Linked DNA regions of Homo sapiens. The protein of the gene in region 3 purifies or fractionates together with the protein of the main gene of each other region. This does not show direct contact. Each region holds a gene or a part of one and is shown on either strand. Other genes may lie near its edges.

Region 1 (11,314 bases), on a different chromosome or scaffold from region 3:
CAAAAACACACATGGAACTGTCACCTATGATGATGATGCTTCCTTCTGTAGTACCTCCTGAAGGCTCTGCCTGAAGCTGTTTACAGTTAACTTTTTTTTTTAAAAAAAAGTATAAGTAGAAGGAGAATACTCTAAAGTGATGATAAAAAGTATAGTATAGCAAGCTGGGCACGGTGGCTCACACCTATAATCCCAGCACTTTGGGAGGCCGAGGCAGGCGGACCACCTGAGTATTGACTTTCTCTTTATGTTGGATTTAGGAGGAGGACAGGACATCTTTTTCTTTGCCTGTATCCCAGGGATAGGAGCAAAAAATTTCTAAGAATAATGACTTGATCAAAGAGATTCGGGGACTCTAATCCCTTTCAGTTCAGATGTTTTAGAATAATTTTCATGCCTAAAGACGGTGATTTACTTTTATTTTTATTTTTAGAGATAGAGTCTCTCTCTGTTGCCCAGGCTGGAGTGCAGTGACGTGATCTCACCTCACTGCAACCTCCGCCTCCCAGGTTCAAGCGATTCTCGTGCTTCAGCTTCTGTAGTAGCTGGGATTACAGGCATGTGTCACCACGTGCAGCTAATTTTTGTATTTAAATTTAGTAGAGACGGGGTTTCGGCATGTTGGTCAGGCTGGTCTCAAACTCCTGGCCTCAAGTGATCCGCCTGTCTTGGCCTTCCAAAATGTTGGGATTACAGGCGTGAGCCACTGCACCCAGCCAAAATATGTGATTTTATGTCTTCTAGGAAAATAGTGTAAAATTCAGCACGTTAAGAAGCTTTTGGTTTTCTGAATTATGTTTGACATGTTATTGTTGACAAACAGAGGACTCTGATTAATAGCTCCAGGAAGCCATCACTATTGTTGCGAGTTTAAAGGTTAAAGACCCAAGATTTAGGAAGAGTTAACACTAAATAATCCTAGATTCTGACTGTTTTTCAGGAAATAAATCTTTATATGTATTTGTGTTCTCTATATATACACACATACAGTAGGCTAATATACATATACATACAGTAGGCTAAACTTAGGCTACACATTTTTTTAAAATGCTTGCTTTCTTCAATAATAAACTAACATTAGCATACTGTAACTTTGTAACATAAACTTTTTAACATTTTAAACCTTTTTGACACTTTTGTAGTAATATTTAGCACACACACACACACACACACAGTAGGGTAAACTTGCATCCAAGTTTGCCTAGAACAGTCCTGGTTCATGTCTCTTGTCCCAGTGTAATTATTAATAGTATATACTTTCACTCTCAAAAATGACCCAGTGTAGGCCAGGCGTGGTGGCTCACTCCTGTAATCCCAGCACTTTGGGAGGCCGAGGTGGGTGGATCACCTGAGGTCAGGAGTTTGAGACCAGCCTGGCCAACATGGTGAAACTCTGTCTCTACTAAAAATACAAACATTAGCCGGGCGTGGTGGCACACGCCTGTAGTTCTGGCTACTTGGGAGGCTGAAGCAGGAGAACTGCTTGAACTGGGAGGCAGAGGTTGCAGTGAGCTGAGATTGCACCACTGAACTCCCGCCTGGGTGACAGAGTGAGACTCCATCTCAAAAAAAAAAAAAAAAAAAACCCAAAATCAAAACAAATGACCGAGTTTATGACTGGGTGTGGTGGCTCACACCTGTAATTCTGGCACTTTGGGAGGCCCAGACAAGAGGATCGCTTGAGCTCAGGAGTTTGAGACCAGCCTGGGCAACATGGCAAGACCCTGTCTCTACTAGAAATAAAAAAAATTAGCTGAGCATGGTGGTGTGCGCCTGTAATCCCAGCTATTTGGGAGGCTGAGGTGGGAGGATCGCTTGAGCCCTGGAGACGCAGGTTTACAGGGCTGGGATTACAGGTGTGAGCCACCACGCCCGGCCACTTAGTATTATTATGTGTAATCATAATATTTTACTCTCTACTGAAATGACATGAGGCTGAGCTTCCCGTGCGCATGTGGTTTTTGTAAATGTCCTGAAATTATTCCACAAAGCACATATAGCGAAAACACAGTGAATTCTATTTGGACTGGAAATCTCATAGTGGAATGAGATATTGGCAGTGGAAGTGAGAGGAAAGGGATGGTGACTGTTAGGAGGACAGGAGTGCAATAGGTAAGAGTGGACCAGTTCATTTATTTGTTTGTTTATGGAGCTGAGGTAGGAGTCTAGAGGCTGAGAACAACTTTCCTCATCAGCTAAGGCCTGGACTATTAGGGAAGACAATAGGGATAACCTGGAGGGATAACTTGGAGGTGTTTCAAAAAGTACCAATTCACCACCGTAGCTGCAAATCTAGCCTGGTGAGACTAACTACAATTGGCCTGAGTCCAAGTGAACTGAGCTTTTATTTGAGCCTACATGTTTTAGTCATTACAAGAGTGCTGGAAATAATATCTCTGCATTATTCCCCTTATAAAAGATTGCTTCCCATCATGAAAACATGTTATTATGTTTGGCTGAGTGCCATTATCACTTATAAATGCTTAATAGATTGAAAGAAAGACAGGGCTCTACTAGTGCCAGAAACACAAGCTAAATATTTTATTAGATTTTAAAGGAGAAAAGTGGAAAACGTAAATACTTCAGTACAAATCCATGACTCGTCTAAGAGAGCCAACTTTGGCATTTGGAGCCCCCCAATCAAGAAACCTCCTGTACTCCCCCGGCCTCAGCAGATACTGCCTCCCCCTGTAGTTGGGCATCTCATAGAGGATCCAGCTGCCCTCCAGCACATTGAGGGAGTGAATTTCAGTGAGGTGGAAGCGGTCCTGAACAGAGATACAGTCGTCTGTGAGCTCTGACATTTGTCCCCTCAATTCATCTCTGTCGTAGATCTTCATTCTGTAAGCGCCAGAGTGCTGGAGTGGCAGACAGAAAACGCAAGAGTAAACAAACAAAAACAGATGGAAATTAAAGCTCCAGTCCCTACACCTCCCTGGCCACACCTGCCCAGAAGTTCTCCCAGGCCAAGTTTGCTTCTAGAACAACCCTGTTGCAAAGTTAAGGAGCTGTCACACTCCCCAGTCACCCACCGCTGAGTCTAATGATTCATGGGCAGAGCTAGGGCTTTGGGAATTAAGATTTGCTTACAATAAAATATCACATCACTTTAGTGCCTGTTATTTGAGAAAGCCTTTCTCAAAGGAGAAAACTGAGAGTCATTGGAAAGTTAAATGTCATATTATGTATATACAGTGAAAGGAAAATAAATCTTGGGACCTCAAAATCACTAAGCTAAAGGGAAAAGTCAAGCCAGGAACTGCTTAGGGCAAACCTGTCTCCCATTCTATTCAAAGTCATCCCTCTGAGGCTCACCTGAGACAAATGCATCTCTGATTGCTTCCTCTCCCCTATTGTTTATGTAAAGATGCAGAGTCATCGAGCCAGACTAAATTGTGTATTCAGTGGAAAGCTGATCAAGGGCTCAAAGAACCTTTTGTCTCTTATCTACTGTTTTTTTTTTTGAGACAGAGTTTCGCTGTTGTTGTCCAGGCTGTAGTACAATGGCGCAATCTCAGCTCACTGCAACCTCCACCTTCTGGGTTCAAGTGATTCTCCTGCCTGAGCCTCCCGGGTAGCGGGATTACAGGCGCCCACCACCACGATTAGCTAATATTTTGTATTTTTAGTAGAGACGGGCTTTGACTATGTTGGCCAGGCTGGTCTTAAACTCCGTCAGGAGTTCAGGCGATCCACCCACCTCAGCCTCCCAAAGTGCTGGGATCACAGGGGTGAGCCACGCGCCCAGCTCTGTTTCTTATCCATGTCTAACCAGGAAGCCCCTACTTCCTGTCTTACCAGACTGAACCAATTTACAACTTATACATATTGATTGATGTCTCATGTCTCCCTAAAATGTATAAAAGCAAACTGTACCCCTGACCACTTTGGGCACATGTCTCAGGACTTTCTGAGGCTGTGTCATGGGTGCATCCTCAACCTTGGCAAAATAAACCTTCTTTCTGGGTTTTTTTTTTTTTTTGAGATGGAGTTTCACTCTTGTTGCCCAGGCTGGAGTGCAATGGCGTGATCTCGGCTCACCACAACCTCTGCCACCCAAGTTCAAGCAATTCTCCTGCCTCAGCCTCCCAAGTAGCTGGGATTACAGGCACGCGCCACCACGCCCAGCTAATTTTGTATTTTTAGTAGAGGTTTCTCCATGTTGGTCAGGCTGGTCTCAAACTCCGGACCTCAGGTGATCTGCCTGCTTTGGCCTCCCAAAAGTGCTGGGATTACAGGCATGAGCCACTGTGCCCAGCCTTGGCAAAATAAACTTTCTAAATTGACTGAGACCTGTCTCAGATATTTGGGGTTCACTATTATATGCGCACGCACACACACACACACATATATGTATTTGTTTCTTGAGACAGGGTCTCCCTCTGTCACCTAGGCTGGAGTGCAATGGCATGATCATGGGTCACAGCCCCCTCAACCTTCTGGGCTCAAGTGACCCTCCCACCTCAGCCTCCTGAGTAGCTGGAACTACAGGCATGCACCACCACATCTGGCTAATTTTCAGTTCAAATTTCTTTTCTTTTTTTTTTTTTTTTGAGACGGAATCTTGCTCTGTCACCCAGACTGGAGTGCAGTGGCATGATCTCAGCTCATTGCAACCTACCCTTCCCGGGTTCAAGCGATTCTCCTGCCTCAGCCTCCCAAGTAGCTGAGACTACAGGCGCGTGCCACCAAGCCCAGCTAATTTTTGTATTTTTAGTAGAGAGGGGGTTTCACCATATTGGCCAGGGTGGTCTTGAACTCCTGACCTCCTGACCTCGGCCTCCCAAAGTGCTGGGATTACAGGCGTGAGCCACCGCACCCAGCCTTCAGTTCAAATTTCAACCTATCTGACTTTTAAGCTTCCTTTCTAGCCTCCTGCTCTCAACTTATTTATTTCCCTCAGCAGCAAGTATCACCTTCATTAACTTCTGTTTTTATGACACTGTATCCCATGCCTCCCACACACCACAATTCTAAGAATTCTGCAGTCACTGCCCAGAAAATATGGAATCTCAAACTTTAGTTTCAGATTTGGCCTTTTCTCTAATTTATACCTCTAAGTGAGCTAATAGGTACTGACCATTAAATTAGAATAGAAATCAGAAGACAGGATCCTATCTTCTCAGGAGGAATAATCAAATAGAAAAGTAAGACAAAGCAAGCAAAAGTTTGTTGTTGTTGTTGTTGTTGTTGTTATTGTCGTTTTGAGATGGAGTCTCACTCTGTCACCAGGCTGGAGTGCAGTGGCACGATCTCGGCTCACTGCAACCTCCATCTCCCGGCTTCAAGCAAGCAATTCTCCTGCCCCAGCCGCCCGAGTAGCTGGGATTTAAGAATAATGTGATTAAATAGGCCGGATGCCGTGGTTCACACCTGTAATCCCAGCACTTTGGGAGGCCGAGGCGGGCGGATCACTTGAGGCCAGGAGTTCGAGATCAGCCTGGGCAACATGGTGCAACCTCGTCTCTACTATGAATACAAAAATTGGCTGGGCATGGTGGTGCATGCCTGTAATCCCAACTACTCAGGAGGCTGAGGCAGGGGAATTGCTTGAACCCGGGAGGCGGAAGTTGCAGTGAGCCGAGATCATGCCACTGCACTCCACCCTGGGGGACAGAGCGAGACTCCGCCTCAAAAAAAAAAAAAAAAAAAAAAAGAATATCATGAAATAGCTTTTATTTCCAAAAAGATGGAAGGCAAAGACAGAGCCACACTCACCGGGGGGATGAGGCAGCAGGAGCGGATGGAGTCGCTGAGGCCCATCCATTGCTGGTAGTCAGGGTACTCCCCACGCCGCAGGAAGTACTGGTGGCCCTGGTAGTTGGGGCGCTCATAGATCATCCAGCAGCCGCTCTCCACCCTGATGGAGTTGCAGCGGCTGAAATAGGGTTGTAGGTTGGGGCAGTCAGTGGTGCATTCGTAGCTGCGGCCCTGGAAGGCCCTGTCCTCGTAGAAGGTGATCTGAAAAATGGAAGATGTGGGAGCATGGAGTGATTGGCCCCCACTGAGGCCACTGCATTAGGGCCAAGGCTGAGCATCCGGTACCCAGGACTTACCTTTCCCATTTTGAAGGAAGTGAGCAGATGTTTTCTGGTTGCTGTGTGGGACTGCGGGAACGTCACTGTATGTATAGCAGCCCTGACTGCTGCCTCCACAGGAAATCACACAAAAGGGCCCATTTTGGTGAGTAAGGGGATTTGCAAGCTCGCTGCTCTCCGTGCCCAGGTCACTGGGGTTGGCTGAATGGTTTACTCTCATTCTTTCTGGTAGGTTCGGGTTGTTCTAATTCACTAAAGCTGTTGTTGCCATCAAAATGAATAGAGTACACTTTTAGTTGAGCAAAAGGATGGGCGAAATTCTGTCTCTGTGCTTTTATTTTATAGTTTACTCTGCTTAATTGACTTCTCAAAAGTCATTAAACTAAGTAATGAATTCTGCTCAGGGACTGGTGGTGTTTTTGTGTGTGTGTGTGTGTGTGTTTTAGTTCTAAAAGCCAGAATTTAAATAGTAAGGAATCTTAAAGAAGAGGGAATCAAGTGAAGTAATCTGTGAAAGTGTGTTAAAACCCATAAAGCTTAGTTCAAATTCAAAATTCTGTGATCAGCCAGGCGAGGTGGTGCACACCTATAATCCCAGGACTTTGGGAGGCTGAGGCAGGTGGATTGCTTGAGCTCAGGAGTTAGAGACCAGCCTAGGTAACATGGTGAGACCCCATCTCTACAACAAATACAAAAATTAGCCCTGCATGGTGGCGCATACCTGTAGTCCCAGCTATTTGGGAGGCTGAGGTGAGAGGATTGCTTAAGCTCAGGAGGTCGAGGTTGCAGTGAGCCATGATTGCACCACTGCACTCCAGCCTGGGCAACAGAGCAAGACCCTGTCGCAAAAAAAAAAAAAAAAAAATTCTGTGATCATCATTGTTGGTGTTTGGGGGCTTGTCTTGAATAAAACTGATACTTGCCTGGAATTTTGTAGGCTTCTGGGGGCTGGGTATTATTTCTTGTTCATGTCTATCCCTGAGCCCTAGAGCAGAGGGTTGGCACATTGCAGGTCCTCAATAATTGGCTCTGACCTGAGCAAAAACAGATAGTTGTGGCTTTCTTCCCCCTTTCAGATCTTCCTAAGGGCCTAAATCCCTCCTTCTGCTGGTGGCTGTCCAGAGTCCTGCCTGCTGTTTGGTGTTCCTGCTCTGCCTCAAATGTTACCACTAAGTGGCTGATTGGTCTTCTCAAGGCATGGGACCAAAAGGGCTCAGAGTTGGTCCCTATTGCTGGCAGATTGGACATTCTACAGTGGAAATAGCTGGATTAGCCTTAATAAGTAGAAGTTAATGCATAGCCTTCATCCATACCACTATGAACGCTCTCTTAGTGAGCTCACTGCCAGCAGTAGGGTGGCTGATGGCAGACGCTGACTGGAATCAAATGACCAAATCATTTTTTCTACTTGGTTGTTTAGTGCCTCTTCAATGGTGGATGCCCTACACTGGGCCTTCACATGGGATACAACTATCTTCGCCCTTTGTGCCCAATCCCATATCTCCCTGCACATTCCTCTACCCCAGACCTTCTTGTCCCTAATCTTCCAATCTTTCTCCTTCCAGGCCCTGGACCAGCCAGCCAAGCCACACATTACTGCTCAATAATTCCATATATGCTTGACCTTGGGCTACTTTTCTTTCTGCACCGAGTGAGCAGCCAGGTGCACTACCTCAAGGTTGCCTTTTGGGAGGATTTCCCTCACTGCTGTCTTTAGGGTGACTCCTGAGTGAGCTATTCTGCAGCAGCATTCTATTTTGGGCTTGTACCCAAATGCCATGCCAATTTATTAGTGTATCAAGCTCAGCCTTCCCCCACTCTATCAGCTGGTCAGAAGGGACCCCTGCAGGCAGTTGTAAGTGTGAGCTGAGAGAGAGCTATTGCAATAATGGTGACTTCATCCCATCCCGCAGGGAAGGCTAGGGCTAGAGTTGTCAGGAACTTAGGCAAGTGGACCGGGAATCTGTGCCTCTGCATTGCCCCGTAATTTGATGTGGGCTGCTGCCATGGAGAAGTGTAACTTTGGGCAAGGCAGCTTCCTCCAGCAGAAGAAAATTCTTGGAGACAAACTCAGCTTTAAGCTGTCAGCATCTGGGAGAAGGAGTGCTTCAGTCCACAGTGGAAGTCCAGGCAGCACCAGAGCGTCCACTACAAGAAGAAAATAAAGCTGAGATAACTGCAGTTAACATTTTGGTGTTTCATCATCCCAGCTTTTTTATATGTCAAACCCATGTGTGGTTGTACAGTGTTATTTATACTGTGTAGCATTCTCTTGTTTTCTTCTAAGTCACCTTTCAAATAAAGTGATTAGTAATACTGATTAAGGTGATCACATTTAGCCTTTTAATACATATATATATATTTTTTTTGTGAAGAGAAACTGAATGAAAAATCGTTCTAGACTCTCTATTGGTTAGCTATACCCATGCTTGAGGTCTAGGCAGTATTCAGGAGAATATCATTCACCCAGTGGACTCACTAAAACAATGTAAACAGTCTTTATGTGCTGAAAGTTCTAACTCTTAAAGAGACTAAATTAACAACCCTGTTTGATGTAAGACCTAACATACTCAGTGTGATGCATAGGTGGGTGTTTGAGGATCATGATGAACTATCATGTAGTGAGCATTGATCTGATTTAAAATTACCCAGATTTTTATCTGCAGGATGATGTTTAAGTGATTGAGGACCCTAGAGTAACTTCCTTTAAGTCATACAAATTCAACCAGTCTCTGGTTCTGATACGTAGAAGAATCAGTAATCCTATGAAAGAAAGATAAACTAAGTATTAGGAACACAAAATCAAAATCTCATTGATTCTAATAGAAGAAATTGAAGGATTAAACATATTTCAGCATCAGTTGTGACTCTTCTTGAAGGGCTCACTTTGACATTTGTCTTCCCCTAGTGGTGAAATTCCTGTTTTCTTTGGAGCCTCAGTAGGAATTTTCTCCCCTACAGTTGGGCATCTCGCAGAAGATTCAGGGTCTTTTATAAGTCTAGGGATTGGGAGAAGATATCCTTGAAAGGAACTAATCATGTATGTGGGAATAGTCTTCAGGGAGCCCCAACATGAGGCCTCCTTACCTGGTACTGGGAGCTGGTCACTTTTGAAAAATAAAAGAGAAGAAAGAAGATGAAAAATAGAAGAAAGAAGAAGAAATTAGTGCATGATCTTGTTATTATGGCTTTATAAGATCTTATATAATGTATAAAAGCCTAACTGAAGATAAAATTTGTTCAGTGCTTAGATTACACAAATCGGAGAGTCTGCCTTTGACTTGGCACGTTAATGAGCATTATAATTCAGGCACATTAATGAGCATTATAATTCAAAGAGCAGAATTACCTGTAATTAACCTGGGTTTTCACCATAGTTTGTACAAGGAGATAGCTACTTTCTCCCTACTTCTCACGAGACTGGTGGCTTCCTCTTCTGGCAGGGGGCAGGGCCCCTAATATCCTATGGGCCCCAAAGATCCCATTTGTCCCAAAGTTTCTAGGTGCAGGGAAGCTGGTGTTCCCAGAGAGCTGTAAATAGCTGATACTGTCAATCCAGGCAGCTTGTGTATTTCTCCCACTGACTTATGCTACACTCCAAAAAGGGAAATCTGTAGGGGGCAGGGGTCCCTCTATTGGAACAGAACCTACACAGTATCCAGTAGATACCCAGGCCCTAGCATGACTCTCCATAGCCAGATAAACAGTATGGAGTGCTTATAGGCTGGCTCAGGCCCATTCCTTAACCTATCTCATGTGACATTGAAGAATTTGTTCCAACCTCTTGCACAACTAGTGACAGCCCTAAACAAGCCTTGAGGCAAATTGTTATATTGAGACTATTGGGGAATCAAATTAAATACTTAGAAAGAAAATATTGGTTCAAGAGGTTGGTGAAAGAGCTTCATCTGCTGTTTCCAAAGTCATGGGAATGTCTGGGCCTTGAATTCAAGTCCTCTCAGTTGCATAGTCAGCTTCTGCTATTGGAGTATCAGGCACCTAGGCTGGTTAGAGTTGTAGGAGGGGAGAGTGATAGTTTCAGGGCCTGCACCATTGCTTGGTGGAGAAACCAACACTTGAAAACAATACCACCTATGACAACCTATCCTGCTTGTCCCATGGTCTGGATTTCACACTGCTTCCTCTAAAAAAATTTTGTTTTTCATCACAATACTAACAACCACTGGGAAATTGTTGACTAGGCACTATTTGTGGAGAATACACTCAGGGGAGCAATAGCTACACACATCTACTAACTTTTACAGTTTCTGTAACTGCTTGTGAAAAGTCATTTAACTTCCCTAAGCCTCAGTTTCCCCATTTATTAAATAGGAATAACAATGAAAACCAGATGAGACAATGGATTTGAAAGCATATGACAAATTGTAAAATATTGCCAATGATTTAGAAAATAGTGTCATATATATTGTTAAAGAAAAAATTATCACACTTGTTAAAGTGGTAAGGAAGACTGTTCAGAGAGGGCCATGGTGATAGGAATAGGGATCATTGCAATGGGGTTTTGCAGTGGGGAAGAGAGATTGTACTCAACTCTGACTCCAAAAAGGATGAATGGGGATTTACAACCTAGGAGTGGGGTCAGGGGCAGTGGATGGAAAATTACTAAGAGGAAACACCAAGGATAAGAGGTTTCTGGCTAAACTGACTTGGTAGAGTTATCGCGGAAGGATGACCAAGGTGTTCAGATACCAAGGGTGGGAGATATTCACTAAAGTGACTCAGGAGGATTCTTGATCAAACTGGATTCTATAAGGACAAAAAGGGAAGCCCGAGGTTGGACCTAGTAAAACAAAAGACTCAGAGAAGACTGACTATAATTTTGGTAAAAGGGGAGAGTGTATTAGTTTGTTCTCACACTGCTATACAGAATTACCTGAGACTGGGTAATTTATGAAGAAAAGAGGTTTAATTGACTCACACTTCCACAGACTGTACAGGAAGCATGGCTAGTAGGTCTCAGGAAACTTACAACCATGGCGGAAGGCAAAGGGGAAGCAAGCACATCTTACCATTGTGGAGCAAGAGAGAGAGTGAAGGGGGAAGTGCCATACACTTTCAAATAACCAGATCTCACTCATTATCCCAAGAACAGTAAGGGGGAAGTTCAACCCCATGATTCCATCACTTCCTACCAGGCCCTTCCCCTGACACATGGGGATTACAATTTGAGATGAGATTTGGATGGGGACACAGAGCCAAACCATATCAGTCTTTGTCAATATTTTAATAAATGCTAAAGATGATAAGATTAATAG
Region 2 (11,033 bases), on a different chromosome or scaffold from region 3:
GGACTACAGGCATGCGCCACCATGCCCAGCTAATTTTTGTATTTTTACCAGAGACAGGGTTTCACTATGTTGGCCAGGCTGGTCTCAAACTCCTGACCTCAAGTGATCCACCCGCCCCGGCCTCCCAAAGGGCTGGGATTACAGGTGTGAGCCACCTCGCCCGGCCTTTGTTTTTTGTTTTTGAGAGAAGGCCTTGGTCTGTCGCCCAGGCTGGAGTACAGTGGCACCATCTCAGCTCACTGCAGATTTGACTTTCTGGGCTCAAACGATCCTCCTGCCTCAGACTCCTGATTAGCTGGGATCACAGGCGTGAGCCACCATACCTGGCTAATTTTTAAAATATTTTGTAGAGACAGGGTCTTGCCATGTTGCCCAGGCTGGTCAAGTGATCCTCCCACCTTGGCTTCCCCCAGTGTTGGGATTATGGGCCTGAGCTATCATCTCTGACGTGTTTTTTTTTTTTGCCTTTGTTTTTGTCACATACATTTTTCTCAGGAGAGAATTCAGTTGCCACCAGATTCTCAGAAAGCATCACAGACCCACGCAAGGACAAAAACCAGAGCAGGCGAGCTCTAGCAGATGCAGGGGTGGAAGGAAGGCTGGGTTACAGGGAGGCAGGAAGAGTGAGGGACGTGGGGAGTGTGGTGATGGTTCCACACATGTGTACACCTGTCAAAACTAGTCCAACTGTGTACTTCAAATATATACAGTTTGTGTCAGGCATGGGAACTCACGCCTGTAATCCCAGCACTTTGGGAGGCCAAAGTGGTAGGATCGCTTGAGCCTAGGAGTTTGAGACCAGCCTGGGCAACTTAGCAAGACCCCATCTCTATTAAAAATTTAAAAATTGTCTGGGCATGGTGGCGCACACCTGTAGTCCCAGCTACTCAGGAGATTGAGGCAGGAGGGTCACTTGAGCCCAGGAGGTTGAGGTTGCAGTGAGCTATGATCAGGTCACTGCACTCCAGACTGGGTAACAGAGTGAGACCCTGTCTCTAAAAAGAAAAAGAAAAAACAAATATATGCAGTTTGTTGTACTTCAATTACACCTCAACAACGTTTTTCCCCCCACCACCCACCAACCAAAATCAAGGCTTTGCAATTTGTGAGGCGGGGCGTGGGGAGCCAGAAGGGGGCGTGACTCCGCGGGCCCCTCCCACCGCCGGGGCGGGGCTCACCTGCCGTTACAGAGCAGCCAGCGCGCGAAGGAGCAGTGTGGCGCCAGCCTGTGCATGAGGGTGGCAGTGAGCAGGGTCACCACCAGCTGTACTCCGAGGACCGCCTGGGGGGAGGGGACATGACTGGCAGCACCTGCCAGAGGGTCACAAGTTCCCTCCCTCCCTAGGAACCCAGGCTATTTATAGAGAAGTCAGGCTGGATGGGGGAAGGGCGAGCCTCTTAGGCTCTAGCGGCTTCTTAGGGGAGAGTCCTGGGGTGAGTCTGGACTCACCTAGCATGGCCCTGCCCTCCCACGTCAGAGATCAACACCCACCCTCACCACCTAGCGGGAGTGTAGGGCAGTGGAGACCATGGGATTTGCCTCCCGCCTCCGCTATGGATTCAGGTATAATATTAATTTCCCGGAGTCTCAGTTTTCTCATCTGGAAATGGGTGCTTCCTATGTAGTCTCCTGTATTCCTCACCACCACCTTCCAGCCCCTAACCACGAGCCCGCCACACTCAGTGAAAGCGGCTCCCACCGCCTTCTGCACCCCACACTGTCACCTAGGGAGCCACTGCGTCTCGGTTGAGCTTCTAGCTTTCTCCTTCACCTGGTAGCTCCTTCCCCTAAGTGTCTCCCACCTTAAGTGATCCCTGATGGTTCCATCACCCTCCTCCCTCTTCTTCCCTTTGTAATTAACCTCCTTGAAAGGGCGTCTATGCTCCTGGCCACCTCCTGTTTTGGTGTGAAGACCTACATGTCTGAGTGGGGTGAGCTTATTTATTTTTATTTATTTATTTATTTTTTTGGCAAGGGAGTGGTGGGGAGAACAGGGTCTTGCTCTGTCACCCAGGCTGGAGTGCAGTGGCATGCTGGGGTGCTCACTGCAGCCTCAACCTCCCAGGCTCAAGTGATTCTCCCACATCAGCCTCCCTAGTAGCTGGGATTACAGGCACTCGCCACCATACCCAACTAATTTTTGTCTATTTTGTAGAGACAGGGTTTCTCCATGTTGCCAGGCTGGTCTTGAACTCCTAGGCTCAAGCAATCCTCCTGCCTTGGCCTCCCAAACGGTTGGGATTACAGGCGTGAGCCACTGTGTCCGGCCTATTTTTATTTTTATTTTTAGAGATGGGGTCTTGCTATGTTGTCCAGGCTGGTCTCAAACTCCTGGGCTCAAGTGATCCTCCCACCTCAACCTACCGAGTAGTTAGGACTACAGTCATGTGCCAACACACCCAGCTAAGGCTTTTTTTTTTTTTAATTAGGAATTTTCTCACCCAGTTCTTAATTCAGAACACATTTTCATATACTTATTTTTAAACGTTTTAGAAGAATCAGTCTGTGGTGAAGCTGGGTTTTCCTGCTTGAATGCAGTAAATACCCATTTGCTGCCAGTAATTACATAATTATGTAAAATTATGTGCTCAGGAGAGCTGTCTACTAGTGTTCTGGAATTATCATCAAAATGAAATAAAGTTTATTTAATAGTAAAATTAATTATGAAAATAATCCTTTAATCAGGCATAAATAAGCTAAATTTAGTCGGAAAAACCCTAATGTGATGGGTACCGGGCCTAGCACGGTAATTCAAAATGACTGCTGAGGCCAGGTGCGGTGGCTCGTGCCTGTAATCCCAGCATGTTGGGAGGCTGAGGCGGGCTGATCACTTGAGGTCAGGAGTTTGAGACGAGCCTGGCCAACATGATGAAACCTTGTCTCTACTAAAAATACAAAAATTAGCCAGACATGGTGGTGGGCGCCTGTAATCCCAGCTACTTGGGAGGCTGAGGCAGCAGAATTGCTTGAACCTGGGAGGCAGAGGTTGCAGTGAGCCGAGATTGTGCCACTGCACTCCAGCCTGGGCAACAGAGTGGGACTCTGTCTCAAAACAAAATAATAATAATAATAAAATAAAAATACATAAAATAACAGACTAATAGGACATTTTCTCTGTACCTGTGACTTGTAAACTGAGACCAGAAATCTTTTTTCAGTAATGAGGTTGGTGGCGGCATCTTTCTCATCTCTAAGTCCTCATTGCTCGCCCTCCCCGGGACCCTAGTGCAGACTGGCTGGCTGGCACTTAGGGACCATGAGTGCCAGCCCATGGGCCCCTGCAAGCCAGTGGGTCAGGGCTGTTGAAGCCCCACCCTTCCCCTAGGACCCTGCCCTCCCACCCCCCAGTCTGTTTTTCTCCTCTCTCTCCGACCTCTCTCCTGTGACCTGCCAGGGTTTTAACCACCCAATCAGCCAGCCCATCAAAACCTCAGCACGGTGACACCTCCAGCCCAGACCTCTCTGCTGAGCTCAACCAGTAGCCTCCTCCAGGCTCTCCTGGGAGACCCTAGCACTCACCCATCATCCCATACCCTTCCAGGTGGTTCAGGCCCTTCCCAGTCTCACAGTCAGCCCCCAACTTGGTTCTGCACCCTGCAGGCATAGCTAGAGACCATCCCTCCACCTCCCCACAGCTCAGCTCTCTCCTCAGCCCTCCCTGCACCCAACCACTGGAGTCTCAGAGGTCTTCCTGGACCTTTGGGCTCTTCATCAATGACCCCACCACCCCCCAAAACCCCCCAAGGGAAAAGGTGGTGGAGGGGTGCATCTCTCCACCTAAGGCTCCCAGAGGTCTGTCCAGGGATGTTCTGATGGCCCTGCCCTCCACCCAGCCTCCTGTCTCAGGGTCAGGGCTCTGCAGACATCTGCAAGAATTTTCTGGAGTCTTCCATCAGCTCCTTCTTTTCCCTTCACTGGATTTACGATTCTCGAACTCAAGAACCCTGATAAAATCAATGCAGCCTCCCTCCTCATTCCCGGGAGCCTGTGCCTTCATCTCCTACGGCGTCCTGCACCTCCGCCTGGGACGACGCCCCACTTTCAATAATTCCGGCCATCAGTGCCCTTCCTTCAGGGCCATCTCCAGCGCCCCTCCTCGGGGATGGTCCCAGGCAGAGACCCTCCAGTTCCACGTCCCTCTCTCTGCCCAGGCCGGTCCCGTCAGGGTTGTGGGAGTCCCCCATCTCCCTGCACCAGCCTGACCCCCAGGGGCTGGGCTAAGTTTTAAGAACACACTCAATAGGTTGGACCCAGAGCCGCGTGAGACCTGAAGGTTCCAACTTTCCTGTCTCCCACTCTGAGAACCTTGCCCGCCCTGAGGCCAACCAGACCTCCTGAGTCCACCTCCCACGGCCTCCCCTGCCCGTTCCACACACCCCGATATAGCAGGGACCCCCGATGGATCCTGTCGGCGCGGCCCCCACGCTCCTGCAGGACCCCCGTCCCCAGAGTGGACCCCCAACAGGACCCCACACCGCCTTAACCAGGTTCCAAATGTGCTGGGGTCCCCAGTCCCCTCTGTGGGACCACGACCCCTCAAAAGGATCCCAGACCCCTAAAAGGTCTCGAGGGCAGAATCCCCAGAACGCTTAGGGGCTTCTAGTCCCCCTGGGTACAACTCCCGCCGACTCCCTCGGAGGTCCTGTAGCGAGAGCAGGGCTCCCAGAGAGGGACACACGGCCTTCAGCGTGCCCCCGAATCCCTCAGAGCCTCCAATCCCCAAGAAGAAACCCCAATCCATTCCCTCAGTGTCTCCCTGGACCCCTTCGGCTGGACCTCGGCCCTGCAGAACCCCCCACTTCGCGGGACGCTCGCTCACCATGACGCGTGCGAGAACGCGGTGCACTCACCCACCGGCCTAGGGCTCCGGGCACTCTGCGGAAACTCGACCAATTAGAGCCCGACTCTGGTCTGACGAGCATCCCGTCCGACCAATCAGTGTGTCTTGAGCCGGCAAATCACCAGGGACGAGGAGGCCGCTCGCGTTGCATGCCGGAAATTGTAGTTCAGATACGCTGGTTCGGATCGATCAAAGTGAAGATTGTGTCTGGGAGGCCTGCGTGGCCGACCTCTCTTAAGGCTTAGTTTTCTCTTTCCTACACTTATCTCAAAGGTTTGCAGCGAAAGCATTTATTCCCACCTAAGGGACATTTCTGAGAGTAGAATTCCCTCCCCCCATCAAGAACATTCAATGGCTCCCACTTAGTAGACGAAGTACTTAGTACTCCTAAGTACTAAGTAGGCTAAGTACTCAGACTGAATTCAGACCCTTCTGCCTGACTTAAATCTGCTGCTAGCACTATTGTGCACCCTATAGTACAACTTGCACCCACCATGCTGTCTCATACCTCCAGGCCTTTGTAAATATCCTACATCTTGCAATGCCTTCAAGAATGCCTCAATCTTAAAATAAAAACAAAACAAAAGCAAAAAAGAATGCCTCAATCTTTTTCACCTGGCAAGTGCCTTATTCATCTCTATCAGCTAGGACTCTGGCTGTGCTCCACAAAATATCAACTAACATGGGTTCAAGCAAAAAAGGAAAATTTTTGGCTCATGTGACAGAAAATACTAGCCATAGTGTCAGCTTCAGGCGTGGCTGGATCAAGGACCAAATGTCAGCTTCAGGGATCTGATGTTCTTTATTTCACCGCTAGGAGGAAAGGGCTTCTGGTGTTTGTGCCCCGGTTTTGCCATTTGTCTTTCTGTGGATGAGTGTGTCTGCCTGAGTGTAGACATATATTGGGTATGACTGAGTGTCTGAGCATCTTTATGGGGGTGGGTTCCTGTGTGTGGGGCCTGAGTAATTACCTTTTCGTTTTTACATTTTATTATGTATTTGTGTATTAATTTTTTTTTTTCTTGAGACGGAGTTTCGCTCTTGTTGCCCAGGCTGGAGTGAAATGGTGTGATCTTGGCTCACCGCAACTTCCGCCTCTTGGGTTCAAGTGAGTCTCCTGCCTCAGCCTCCCGAGTAGCTGGGATTACAGGCATGCACCACCACGACTGGCTAATTTTGCATTTTTAGTAGAGATGAGGTTTCTCCATGTTGATCAGGTTGGTCTTGAACTCCCGACTTGAGGTGATCCGCCCACGTCGGCCTCCCAGAGTGCTGAGATTACAGGCGTGAGCCACCGGGCCTGGTTTATATTTTATTTTTTTAACTTTCGGCTGGCAAGTGCTGAATCCTAAGCGCACTATCGCACGCCACCTCGTGGTGGAGGGCAAAAGCGCAGTCTCCCTGGGATGGAGAAGTCAAACCAGTCTCACTTGTGGCCCTGGGGGCTCCCAGCCTTAGAAAGCGGCCCATAGTTTTATGGACCTCACACTGGGTGCTTAGCCTGTGGGCACTAACATCAGGGACTGGCCTGACTTCTTGTCCACCGTGAGGGTGAGATCCAAAGGCTGGGAAGGCTCTTTCTCTCTGGCCATGCCTCAGTTTCCCCCAGGGTACCCGCTACCTTGACCCTTTTCCTCTTGCTCAGTCCCTGGCCCTGGTCTGGATGTGCGGGGTTGGGGTGCCAGTGAGTAGGTAGGTCTTCAGCCCATGTGGAAGGAAGGCCAGGATCATTGTCGGGGAGGTCCTCAGAACAGAAGGGTGGGTAACTGGCTGAAGAGTTTGCATCATCTGTGCATGTAGCAGTGGCGCTGCTGGAGGTGGCAGGAGCTGCATGCTCAGCTGGACCTCCACAGCCATTGATCACTGCCATGAGGACCGTGGCTCACCCCTCCTGAGTGGGGAAGGGACAGAAGGGACCAGGTGGGAAGTGTTGAAGACTTGAGTCCAGCCAGGCATGGTGGCTTGGCGTATGCCTGTAGTCCCAGCTACTTGGGAGGCTTAGGCTGGAGGATCGCTTGAACCCAGAATTTTGAGACCAGCCTGGGCAGCACAGCAAAACACCCATCTCTAAAAAAAAATTAAATTAAAAAAAAAGTTAAATTAGCCCAACGTGGTGGCTCAAGCCTGTAAGTCCCAGCTACTCAGGAGCCTGAGGTGGGAAGATTGCTTGAGCCCAGGAATTTGAGGCTGCAGTGAGTCGTGATCATGCCACAGCACTCCAGCCCTGGCAACATGACGAGGAAAAAAAAAGAGGCTGGGTGCAGTGGCTCATGCCTGTCATCCGAGAACTTTGGGAGGCCAAGGTGGGAAGATCACTTAAACCCAGGAGTTCCAGACCAACCTGGGCAACATGGGGAAACCCAGACTATACAAAAAATACAAAAATTAGCTGGGCAGGCTGGGCACAGTGGCTCACGCCTGTAATCCCAGCACTTTGGGAGGCTAAGGGGGGCGGATCACAAGGTCAAGAGATCAAGACCATCCTGACCAATATGGTGAAACCCTATTGGGTTTCTACTAAAAATACAAAAATTAGCTAGGCGTTGTGGCTCACGCCTGTAGTCCCAGTAGTAGTCCCAGCTACTGGGGAGTCTGAGGCAGGAGAATCACTTGAACCCAGGAGGCAGAGGTTGCAGTAAGCTGAGATCTTGCCACTGCACTCCAGCCTAGCTGGGCAAGGTGGTGTGCACCTGTAGTCTCAGTTACTTGGGAGGCTGAGGCAGGATTGCTTGCACCCATGAGATCAAGGCTGCAGAGAGCTATGATTGCACCACCGCAGTACAGCCTGGGCAATAGGGCAAGACACTGCCTCAAAAATAAAAAAATAGGCCAGGCGCAGTGGCTCATGCCTGTAATCCCAACATTTTGGGAGGCTGAGGTGGGAGGATCACTTGAGGTCAGGAGTTTGAAACCAGCCTGGCCAACATGGTGAAACCCCATCTCTACTGAAAATACAAAAATTAGCCGGGTGTGGTGGCAGTCGCCTGTAATCCGAGCTATTTGGGAAGGACGAGAATCGTTTGAACCCGGGAGGCAGAAGCTGCAGTGAGCCGAGATCCCGCCACTGCACTCCAGCCTGGGCAACAGAGTGAGACTTTGTCTCAGAACAAAAAAACAAAAAAAAAAACCCAATAATAATAAAAACAAAATTAGGCCAGGAGCGGTGGCTCACACCTGTAATCCCAGCACTTTGGGAGACCGAGGTGGGTGGATTACCTGAGGTCAGGAGTTTGAGACCAGCCTTGCCAACATAGTGAAACCCCGTCTCCACTAAAGATACAAAAAATTAGCTGAGCATGGTGGCACATGCCTGTAGTCCCAGCTACTCAGGAGGCTGAGGCAGGAGAATCGCTTGAACCTGGGAGGCAGAGGCTGCAGTGAGCCGAGATCGTGCCATTGCACTCCAGCCTGCATGACAGAGCGAGACTCTCTCTCAAAACAAAAAACAAAAACAAAACAAAATAATAAAAATAAGTAAGTAGAAAAGAAAAAGAAAAAAGACCTGAGTCTGGGTTGGGTGAGCGAAATCTCTAGCCGCACTTGGACACTCTGCAGAGGCTTCAAGTTCACCCCATCCAAGTCTCATTCCCTACAAGCTTCCACAGCACAGAGGATGAAATGGGAGCTTCCAGTCACCCACGGCACGCTCTTCCCTTCACCTCCACCTCCGAGCCGTTCTGGAGTCCTGGTGGGTTTGCCTCCACGCACACACAGAGAGTGATCATTCCAGGGGGCACTGCCTCCCCTCAGCTCCCAATGCCCCCTGCCACGGGAGCCTGGGGAGGGGCTTTTACACACTTTGATCATGCCATATCCCTATCCTGGAAACTGGGGCCCCAAAGCCCCCACCTCACTGGGGATGAGGGTGGCGAAGATGACGTAGGACAAACCTTAGCTGGGGTCTGGGGTGCAGATGGCATCCTATACTCCGCCGTATAAACAAGTGCCCCCTCCGGGTTCTGTCACTTATATACTTTGTCCAGTCTCCCTATCCCTTAAAAGGCGTCCCGCCCATCATCTTGTCTAGGACTGTGTGCGCTAAGGGTGAAATGCAAGGTGCTCAGTTTTACTGAAGAAATCTCTCCCTGGGGCGCTGAGTGACAGAAAGGATTTTGAAATTGTCAGTCAACGTACCCCGCCCATTCTGGCTGAGCTGTGCCAACCAGCTCAGCTTTGGATCTTGGCAGAGTGATTGGAAAGCAGGTGAGTTTGTTTGTTTGTTTGGTTTTTGAGATAGAGTCTTGCTCTGTTGCCCAGGCTGGAGTGCAGTGGCGCGATTTCGGCTCACTGCAACCTCCACTTCCCGGGTTCAAGTGATTCTCCTGCCTCAGCCTCCTGAGTATCTGGGACTACAGGCACACACTACCATGCCCGGCTAATTTTCGTATTTTTAATAGAGACGAGGTTTCACCACATTGGTCAGGCTGGTCTCGAACTCCTGACCTCAAGTGATCCACCTGCCTCAGCCTCCCAAAGTGCTGGGATTACAGGTGTGAGCCACCATGCCCGGCCTGTTTTTGTTTTTGTTTTTTTACTCTTTGAGACGGGGTCTTTTGCTCTGTTGCCCAGGCTGGAGTGCAGTGGCTCAATCATGGCTCACTGCAGCCTTGACTTCCCGGGCTCAGGTGATTCTCCCACCTCAGCCTCCTGAGAAGCTGGGACTAGAGGTGTGCACTGCCACGCCTGGCTAATTTTTTTTTTTTTTTAAGAGATGGGATTCACCATGTTGCCCAAGCTAGTCTTGAACTCCTGGGCTTAGGCCATCCTCCCACCTCAGCCTCTCAAAGTATTTGGATTACAGGGGTGAGCCACTGTCCCCGGCCAAGGCGGATCTTGTAAGTCTTGATCTCAACACTCATGTTTTCCGTCTTCCTGTCCAAATCTGTGAACTCCAACTCACAAAGGTGTTTCTCAGCTTGGGACAGTGTAGAAGGCGTCATGGAGGAAGAGAGGCAGAGCTGGGCCTTGGAGGGTGGGAAGGAGTTTAAAAAGGAGACAAGTTGGGGGTTGAGGGAGGCGCTCCAGGAAAGACCAGTAGGGTCACATGTTGGTACTGCAAATATTTCTAAGGTACTGGAGAGGCTGGGACAGGGATAGGAGACCAGGCCAGACTAGGGTAGGGCAGCTGAGGAGCCCAACTTCCTTCTAAGGATGAGGAAAAGCTTCAAAGAGATGAGCAGAACATGGCAGAGGCAGATCTTTTAAATTTTATTACTGTTATTTTTAGAGACAATGTCTTGTTCTGTCACTCAGGCTGGATTGTAGTGGGCTGGTAATAGCCCACTGCAGCCTCCAACTCCTGGGCTCAAGGCATCCTTCCTCCTCAGCCTCCCAAAGGACTGGGATTACAGGCAAGAAGTAATTTTTTTTTTTTTTTTTTTTTTGAGACGGAGTCTTGCTCTGTTGTGCAGGCTGGAATGCAGTGGCACGATCTGGATCTCGGCTAACTGCAACCACCACCTCTTGAGTTCAAGTGATTCTCGTGCCTCGGCCTCCCAAGTAGCTGGGATTACAGGCATGGGCCATGAGGCCCAGCTAATTTTTGTATTTTTAGTAGAGATGGTCTCAAATTTCTGGCCTCAAGTGATCTGCCCGCCTTGGCCCCCCAAAGTGCTAGGATTACAGGTGTGAGCCACCGTGCCCGGCTAGAAGTCAGTTTTTTATGTTGTCGTTGTTTTTGATGTTATTTTTGAGATAGGGTCTCGCTCTGTTGCCCACGGTGGAGTGCAATGGCTCAATCACAGCTTGCTGCAGCCTCGACTTCCTATGCTCAGGCAATTCTCCCACCTCAGCCTCCTGAATAGCTGGGACTACAGGAATGTGCCAGCCATGCCCAGCTAATTTCTTTTTAAATTTTTTGTAGAGATCAGGGTGTCAGTATGTTGCCCAGGCTGGTCTCAAACTGCTGGGCCCAAGCCATCCATCCACTTTGGCTTCCCAAAGTGCTAGGATTACAGGCTTTGGCCACCGCACCCGGCAAGAAGTCAGATGTTAAGTATTATGAAGATCTCACTGAATGCCATGTATGGTGGCTTGCACCTGTAGTCCAGCTACTCTGGAGGCCGAGGTGAGAGGATTGCTTGAGCCCAGGAGTTTGAGAGCAGCCTGGGCAACATAGTGAGGCCCCAACTAAAAAAAAAAAAAAAATCCCACTGAGACCACCTGGGGTGCGTGAGGCCAGATAGACCCTGC
Region 3 (6,009 bases):
TCCTCATTAGCAAGACTTAGTCCAAACTAATCTTCCTAAAGTGGCTGCTCAACACCCTCCATGGCTCCCCACTCCTTGCAGGCCTAAACACCCCAGACCAGCATTCCTTTTTTCAAACTGGTCCCCACCCCCCTTCCCCTAGTCTTCTCCCTGGGACTCCAATTTGGCACCCCATGTTACAGCAACCTTCCCCCCAGATTTTCTGAGATGATTCCATTTCCTGTAATAACTGTTAATAAAAGCAAGAAGCGAAATAGCTAATTAAAAGTGATTTAATGTGTATTTTGCAACACTTTTCCAATAAATTCACGACTTAAGGGAAAAATCCTTTGTCATCCTGTGTGTTCTAATTTTTGCTTCAAATGACTAGGCATCTGCTAACTCCAGGTTCTGCAAAATGCTCCGGAACTTTCCAGCTTCCACGCCTTTGCCCATGCTGTCTCTCCACATGGGCATCTCTTGCCCCTCGTCTCTACTCTCTACCCCTCTCGCCTGGTGTATTTCAATCACCAGGTCATCCCTCAGGCCCCTGACATCTCCATCCTTGTCCCCAGCCCCTAGCTCAAGGTCTAGCACAATTGGTGCTTAACAGAAAGAGGGAAACTTCCTTTCCACTGAATCCTACAGTGATCTGTCTGACCATGGATCTCTCCCCTTGCCTAGATGTGACACCCTCCAAGGCAGACCCTGTGTCTGATCCACTCCAATATCCCCTTGGCATATAACACTACAGCACCTAGCACACAGTAGGTGCACAGTTGCTGCACAACTAATTCAGGGAGTGAATCCTACTGTGGAAGAGAAATAAAGCGGCTGTCACCCACCCTTCTAGGTCCTGCCTCTCCTTTTCTTCCTTTTTCTTATCCAGGAAAAAAGCAATTCCATTGTGAAGACAAACTAGGTCAGATTCCCTCCCTCCCTCCCTCCCTCTCTCTGCCCTGTGGTCTGGCCAGATACATTCTTCCCACGCCTCTCTGAGCCTCCACTGGCATTCTGTAAGTGTCAGAGATGCTGTCGGGTGGTCTGTGTCCCAACCCCACCCCACACTCATCTCTGCCCTGAGTCCTGCTGCCTTGAGAATCTGCTGGAACACTGAGGCCTCCGTGCCAATGGCCCCTCTCTCCACAAAGAACAGGCAGGGAACAAAGGGTACTCTTCAATTTCAAATAATAGACATTAATTTATTAAAGCTAAATCTTAATTTTTTTGTATGACAGTGACTCCGAAATCAGAAAAAGTAACAGACGTGCCTGCCTGACTGTATCCCAGAAGGCTGCAGCCCAACACTTTCTTTTTTTTTTTTTTTTTTTTTGAGACCGATCATCCAGGCTGGGCTGGAGTGAGTGCAGTGGTGTGATCTTGGCTCACTGCAATCTCTGCCTCCTGGGTTCAAGCGATTCTCCTGCCTCAGCCTCCCGAGTAGCTGGGACCACAGGCATGCACCACCACACCCGGCTAATTTTTGTATTTTTAGTAGAGATGGGGTTTTGCCACATTGGCCAGGCTGGTCTTGAACTCCTGACCTCAGGTGATCCACCCACCTCAGCCTTCCAAAGTGCTAGGATTACAGGCATAAGCCACCGTGCCCGGCCAACACTTTCTTGAGTCTATGGTTGGAGTCTGACCAGAAGTGCCTCAGGGAACCCTGACGCACCCCCCCTTCTCCCCACATGGTAAGCATGCATGCTGGGGGAAGGGGCACCTGACCTGGCATTCCTGGTGGCATGGATCCTGGAACCCTCCCAAATCACCTGCACATGTTCATATGCACACTTTTCCAGGGGGAGGGGGTGTGTTCACCATGTTCTTGGGCTTTTCTAAGGCACATGACTCCAAGAAAAGTATGGGAACCGGTGTAGGTAGGGTTGCCAGATTTAGCAAACAAAAATATTGCTTGGGATGGACTTGTATTAAAAAGGCATTTGTGGGCCAGGTGTGGTGGCTCATGTCTGCAATCCCAGCACTTTGGGAGGCCGAGGCGGGTGGATCACTTGAGGTCAGGAGTTTGAGACCAGCCTGGCCAACATGGTGAAACCCCATCTCTACTAAAAACACAAAATTTAGCCGGGTGTGGTGATGAATCCCTGTAATACCAGCTGCTTGGGAGGCTGAGGCAGGAGAATCACTTGAGTCTGGGAGGCGGAGGTTGCTGTGAGCTGAGATCACACCACTGCACTCCAGCCTGGGTGACACAGGGAGACTCCGTCTCAAAAAAAAAGGCATTTGCAGTTTAACTGTAATTCATGTTTAAATGAGAGTCTTGGATTTTGTGTGGCAATCTAGACCGGTGAGTGAGACCTGTGCAAATGTAACATAGCCCATGCGCTATGGCCATTCATTCATTCATTCATTTCCCCCTCATCCCACCACCATCACACCCTGAAGGAGACATTATAGGTGCACAGTCCTGTGCCAGGCTCTCCAGGAAAACAAATGACCCCACAGTTGCCCTATTGAAAACACAGAGACCTGGTCCCCAGCCTCTGTCCCACAGCCTCCCACTGCACCCGTCCTCAGGGATACTGATCTGAAAGCAGCACTGGCACAGGGCCTCACTGGCACACAGCTAGCGCCAGGGGTGATGGGTGACAGCTGAAGGGGCTGCGGCCCACCCACGCACCTTGATGAGGAGGCCCAGCTCCTGGTCGCTCACACACGGATGGGCCCTCAGGAACTTCTCTCGGACCTCCCCCAGCTCCCTCTGGGCCTGCTGCTCGTGGGGCTGCTCCAGGGCCCGGAACACCAGGGCACCAGACACCAAGTAAAGCAAGACCAGCGCCAGCAGGGCCAGGAGCGTGGTGCTGCGCATGGCGCGCCCAGGCGCCGGGCCAGCTCCACTGCCCGCCTGGAGGGGCCGGGCGGGGGGCTCCTGGGGAGCTGTCGTCACTGCGGGCAAAACCAGGGATGCTGGGGTCACTGAGCTGGCCTGACACCCACACCCTCCTCCTCTATCCCCTACACACCCAAAGATCCATAAAGCCCCCAGCTGCACTGTCCACAGACATCCCTCTGGCTGGACACACCCAGTCCCCCTCCTATCTCCAGCCTTCCCCTTACCTCCGCTGCCCGGCCCTCAGCCCCTGTCTGGGACTACCGGGTGAGGAAAGAGAGGAGGGCACCGAGAAGGGAAAGGAAGGCGAGTGGGAGGCCGAAAGAGAGCCTAAGCCTGCCTAGGGGGAAGCGGGGCGAGCGAGGAAATGTGTGGAGCTTGGTGGGGGTGCGGGGAGCTGGCCCTCGAGGAGGAGGCTGAGGGGGCTCGGAGGCGTCCGAAGGGAAACCCGGAGGAGAGGCCGGACAGCGCAAGGCGGGGACAGGGGAATGGTGGGTCCCTGCTCGCCCGCTGCGGCTGTGACAGCATCTCCGCGGCTTCTCCGTCCCCTCTCGCCTCGCCCTGCTTCCTGGCTGGCCCTCCAGGGTGCCCCCGCGCCCCGCCGGGCTTTCGAGGAACCCAGGGGCGGGTCCCGGCCGCCGCACCCAGGCGAGGAGGGGTGCTGGGGACGCCCAGTTCCCGGAAAAAGCGGGGCGGGGGTCCGCAAAGGCCACACCGGGGCGACAGCCCCCGAGACAGCTGTCAGTCCGAGACAGCGGGCGGCGGCGCCCACGCGCACACACGCCCCGGCACGCGCCGCCAAGCGCGGGCACAAAGACCCGCGCGCCCACGCTCCATCCCGAGGCTGCAGCGCCGCGCCGCCCCGCTGCACGCACGCACCCCACCTGCACTCTCCGCAGACGCCCCGGCATCCCCGGCCCCCATGGGCGTGCCGGCCGCGCCAGGGCACCCAGAGCCCACGCACACGTGTGTGGACACTAGCGTGCACACGCCAGACAGCAGGGCCACCGCGCAGCGCCCGCAGCTCGCTCCCACCGCCTCCCCCGCGTCCGCACAGCGACGCCTCGGAGCGTGGCGGGCGGCGGGACCGGCGGCCACACCACTCCCGGAGGCGCCCACGCGCGAGAGGTGGGCACCCCGCCCGGCCAGTCGCCCCTGGGGCGTCCCTGCCCCTGAGTCCTGCCCGCGCACCGGAGCCCGCACCGCACTTACTGTCGGCCCCGCTGCGGCTGCGGCTGAGGCCCGGGTTCCAGCACGGCCTCGCCGGTGCCGACTGGGCCGCGGAGGCGGCAGGGGCGGAGCGGGCGGCCGCCGGGGCTGGGACCCCCCTCCCGCCGGCAGAAGCCCCCCTCCTCCCGCGGTTAACCCCTCCGGCGCCGCGCTTCCCTCCGTGCAGCGCCCTCGCCGCCGGCGCCGCCCCAAGCCGTTTACCTGCGGCCGCCTGGCTCCCCACAGCCGGCCAGCCCCGGGAGGTGGGTGGCAGAGGAGCCGGAGAGGGGTTGCAGCAGGGGCCAGCCTTCTAGCCTTGGACCGGAGCCCAGTGTGGCCAGCGGCAGGGCCCCGACCTGGGCATCAGCTGGCCCGTCTCTCCGGACAGGCACCACGCTAATCTGGCATCTCCCAGGCCCATTACCGGATCGGGAAGGGTCCGCAACTCTCCGCCCCTGGGGACAGCCTGGCCCTTGGGCTCAGCACTCATGAGGGAGGGGCTCCGCGGGACAAAGGGGTGGGGGAAACCCGGTGGGGCCACCTGGAATTGGCCGACGTGGAGGTTGGGACCCACCTCTGGGGGAGTTGCTGCTGGAGCACCTCCTGCCCCCACTCCAGGTTTTGGCCCTCTACCTGCTCCCCGGCTATCCCTCCAGGGTGCTCCCTGCCCCAGCTTTTGGTTCTCACTTCCATGCCCAGAAATCAGCCCCGGAAGGCTGTGGCTGAAGCTGCCTGCAGATCCCAGCATGGCACTGGTGCCAGCATCCACTCTCCCACTGCCTGAACACCCAGGCCCTGGCTGGTCCTGAACTTGCCCCGCCCTGTTCTCACCCACTTGACAACCTGTGACCTCTCCAAAGACCCTCTGGTGCCTGCTGGGGTCCTCAGCCCTCATGCTGGATGGCTTTCAGCCTGGGCTTTGAGGCTGACCACCCGCTACTGGTAGGGAACCTGAACAGGTTACCAAACTCTGGAGTCTCCCTGTTCCCACTTACAGAAAAGGGATGATTAATCATCACTTCGGGGTGCTGTTCTGGGCATTAAGGAGGCCAGTGTTTAGAAATCCTCAAAACAGAGCCTGGCACACACAATAAAGTGCCCCACAAACGTTAGCAGTTTTTATTTCAACAAAAAGTGATTGTCCAGCTTCAAGCTGATTCTCTATGAGTCTCAGATGCCCTCTCTGGAGGCCCTGAGGGCCTGGTGCCCAGGATGGTCCCAAGTAAAGGGTTTTGAAGCAGGCCCAGTGATAAGCCAAGGGAACTCTGAAAAGCTGGGACAACCACCTATGTGGGCAGGGGACAGACCCTCCAGCAAAGGACTCCTAGCCATCAGACAGACCTGCCAGGGCCATGGAAGCAGAGGGCAGTGACTATGCTACTAAGGACAGTGGAGAAGAGGGCTAACGGGAGGGCATAGCTAGGGGACCACCTGTACATCTGGGCAAACCCACGCCCTGGTAGGAAGATGGGGGCTGCTCAGTCACTGCGCCAACTCCCCAGCAAGCCCTGGACTAACTCCTGACTCCTAAAGACCAGGTTGGGGTGGTGATAGGGAAACAGGGCCTCCAGAAAGTCTAATCCATTGGGGTTAAGACTCAGAAGCTGCCAGGCATGGTACCTCATGCCTGTAATCCCAGCACTTTGGGAAGCTGAGGTGGGTGGATTGCTTGAGCCCGGGGGTTCGACACCAGCCTGGGCAACATGGTGAAACCCCACCTCTAAAATTAAAAATTAAAAAATTAGTCAGGAATGGTGGCATGTGCCTGTATTCCCAGCTACTCGGGAGGCTGAGGCAGGAGGATTGCTTGAGCCTGGTAGGTTGAGGCTGCAGTGGGCCATGATCGTGCCACTGCACTCCAGTCTGAGTGACAGAGTGAGACCCTGCTTCAAAAAACAAAACAAAACAAAGAACCTCAATGGCCACATAATCAGTAATGTGGAGCTGTGGGGCCCAGCAGAGGGGCCATG

What was found.
Region 1: the proteins of KCNK4 (region 3) and CRYGB purify together in Homo sapiens (affinity purification with mass spectrometry; one large-scale study listed by BioGRID and IntAct). This does not show direct contact.
Region 2: the proteins of KCNK4 (region 3) and TMEM161A purify together in Homo sapiens (affinity purification with mass spectrometry; one large-scale study listed by BioGRID and IntAct). This does not show direct contact.

What each region holds. Positions count from the first base shown.
Region 1 is NC_000002.12:208,140,056-208,151,369, forward strand, and holds CRYGB (gamma-crystallin B), read right to left. Parts: upstream 6,104-11,314; 5' UTR 6,066-6,103; coding exon 6,057-6,065; intron 5,962-6,056; coding exon 5,719-5,961; coding exon of another isoform or gene 5,713-5,718; intron 2,859-5,712; coding exon 2,583-2,858; 3' UTR 2,518-2,582; downstream 1-2,517. UniProt on the Homo sapiens protein: Crystallins are the dominant structural components of the vertebrate eye lens.
Region 2 is NC_000019.10:19,133,606-19,144,638, forward strand, and holds the start of TMEM161A (transmembrane protein 161A isoform 1 precursor), read right to left. Parts: upstream 4,874-11,033; 5' UTR 4,824-4,873; coding exon 4,821-4,823; intron 1,312-4,820; exon of another isoform or gene 1,283-1,311; coding exon 1,179-1,282; intron 1-1,178. UniProt on the Homo sapiens protein: May play a role in protection against oxidative stress. Overexpression leads to reduced levels of oxidant-induced DNA damage and apoptosis.
Region 3 is NC_000011.10:64,289,819-64,295,827, reverse strand, and holds the start of KCNK4 (potassium channel subfamily K member 4), read right to left. Parts: upstream 4,527-6,009; 5' UTR 4,262-4,526; intron 4,107-4,261; exon of another isoform or gene 4,043-4,106; intron 3,831-4,042; exon of another isoform or gene 3,710-3,830; intron 2,887-3,709; 5' UTR 2,810-2,886; coding exon 2,621-2,809; intron 1-2,620. UniProt on the Homo sapiens protein: K(+) channel that conducts voltage-dependent outward rectifying currents upon membrane depolarization. Voltage sensing is coupled to K(+) electrochemical gradient in an 'ion flux gating' mode where outward but not inward ion flow opens the gate.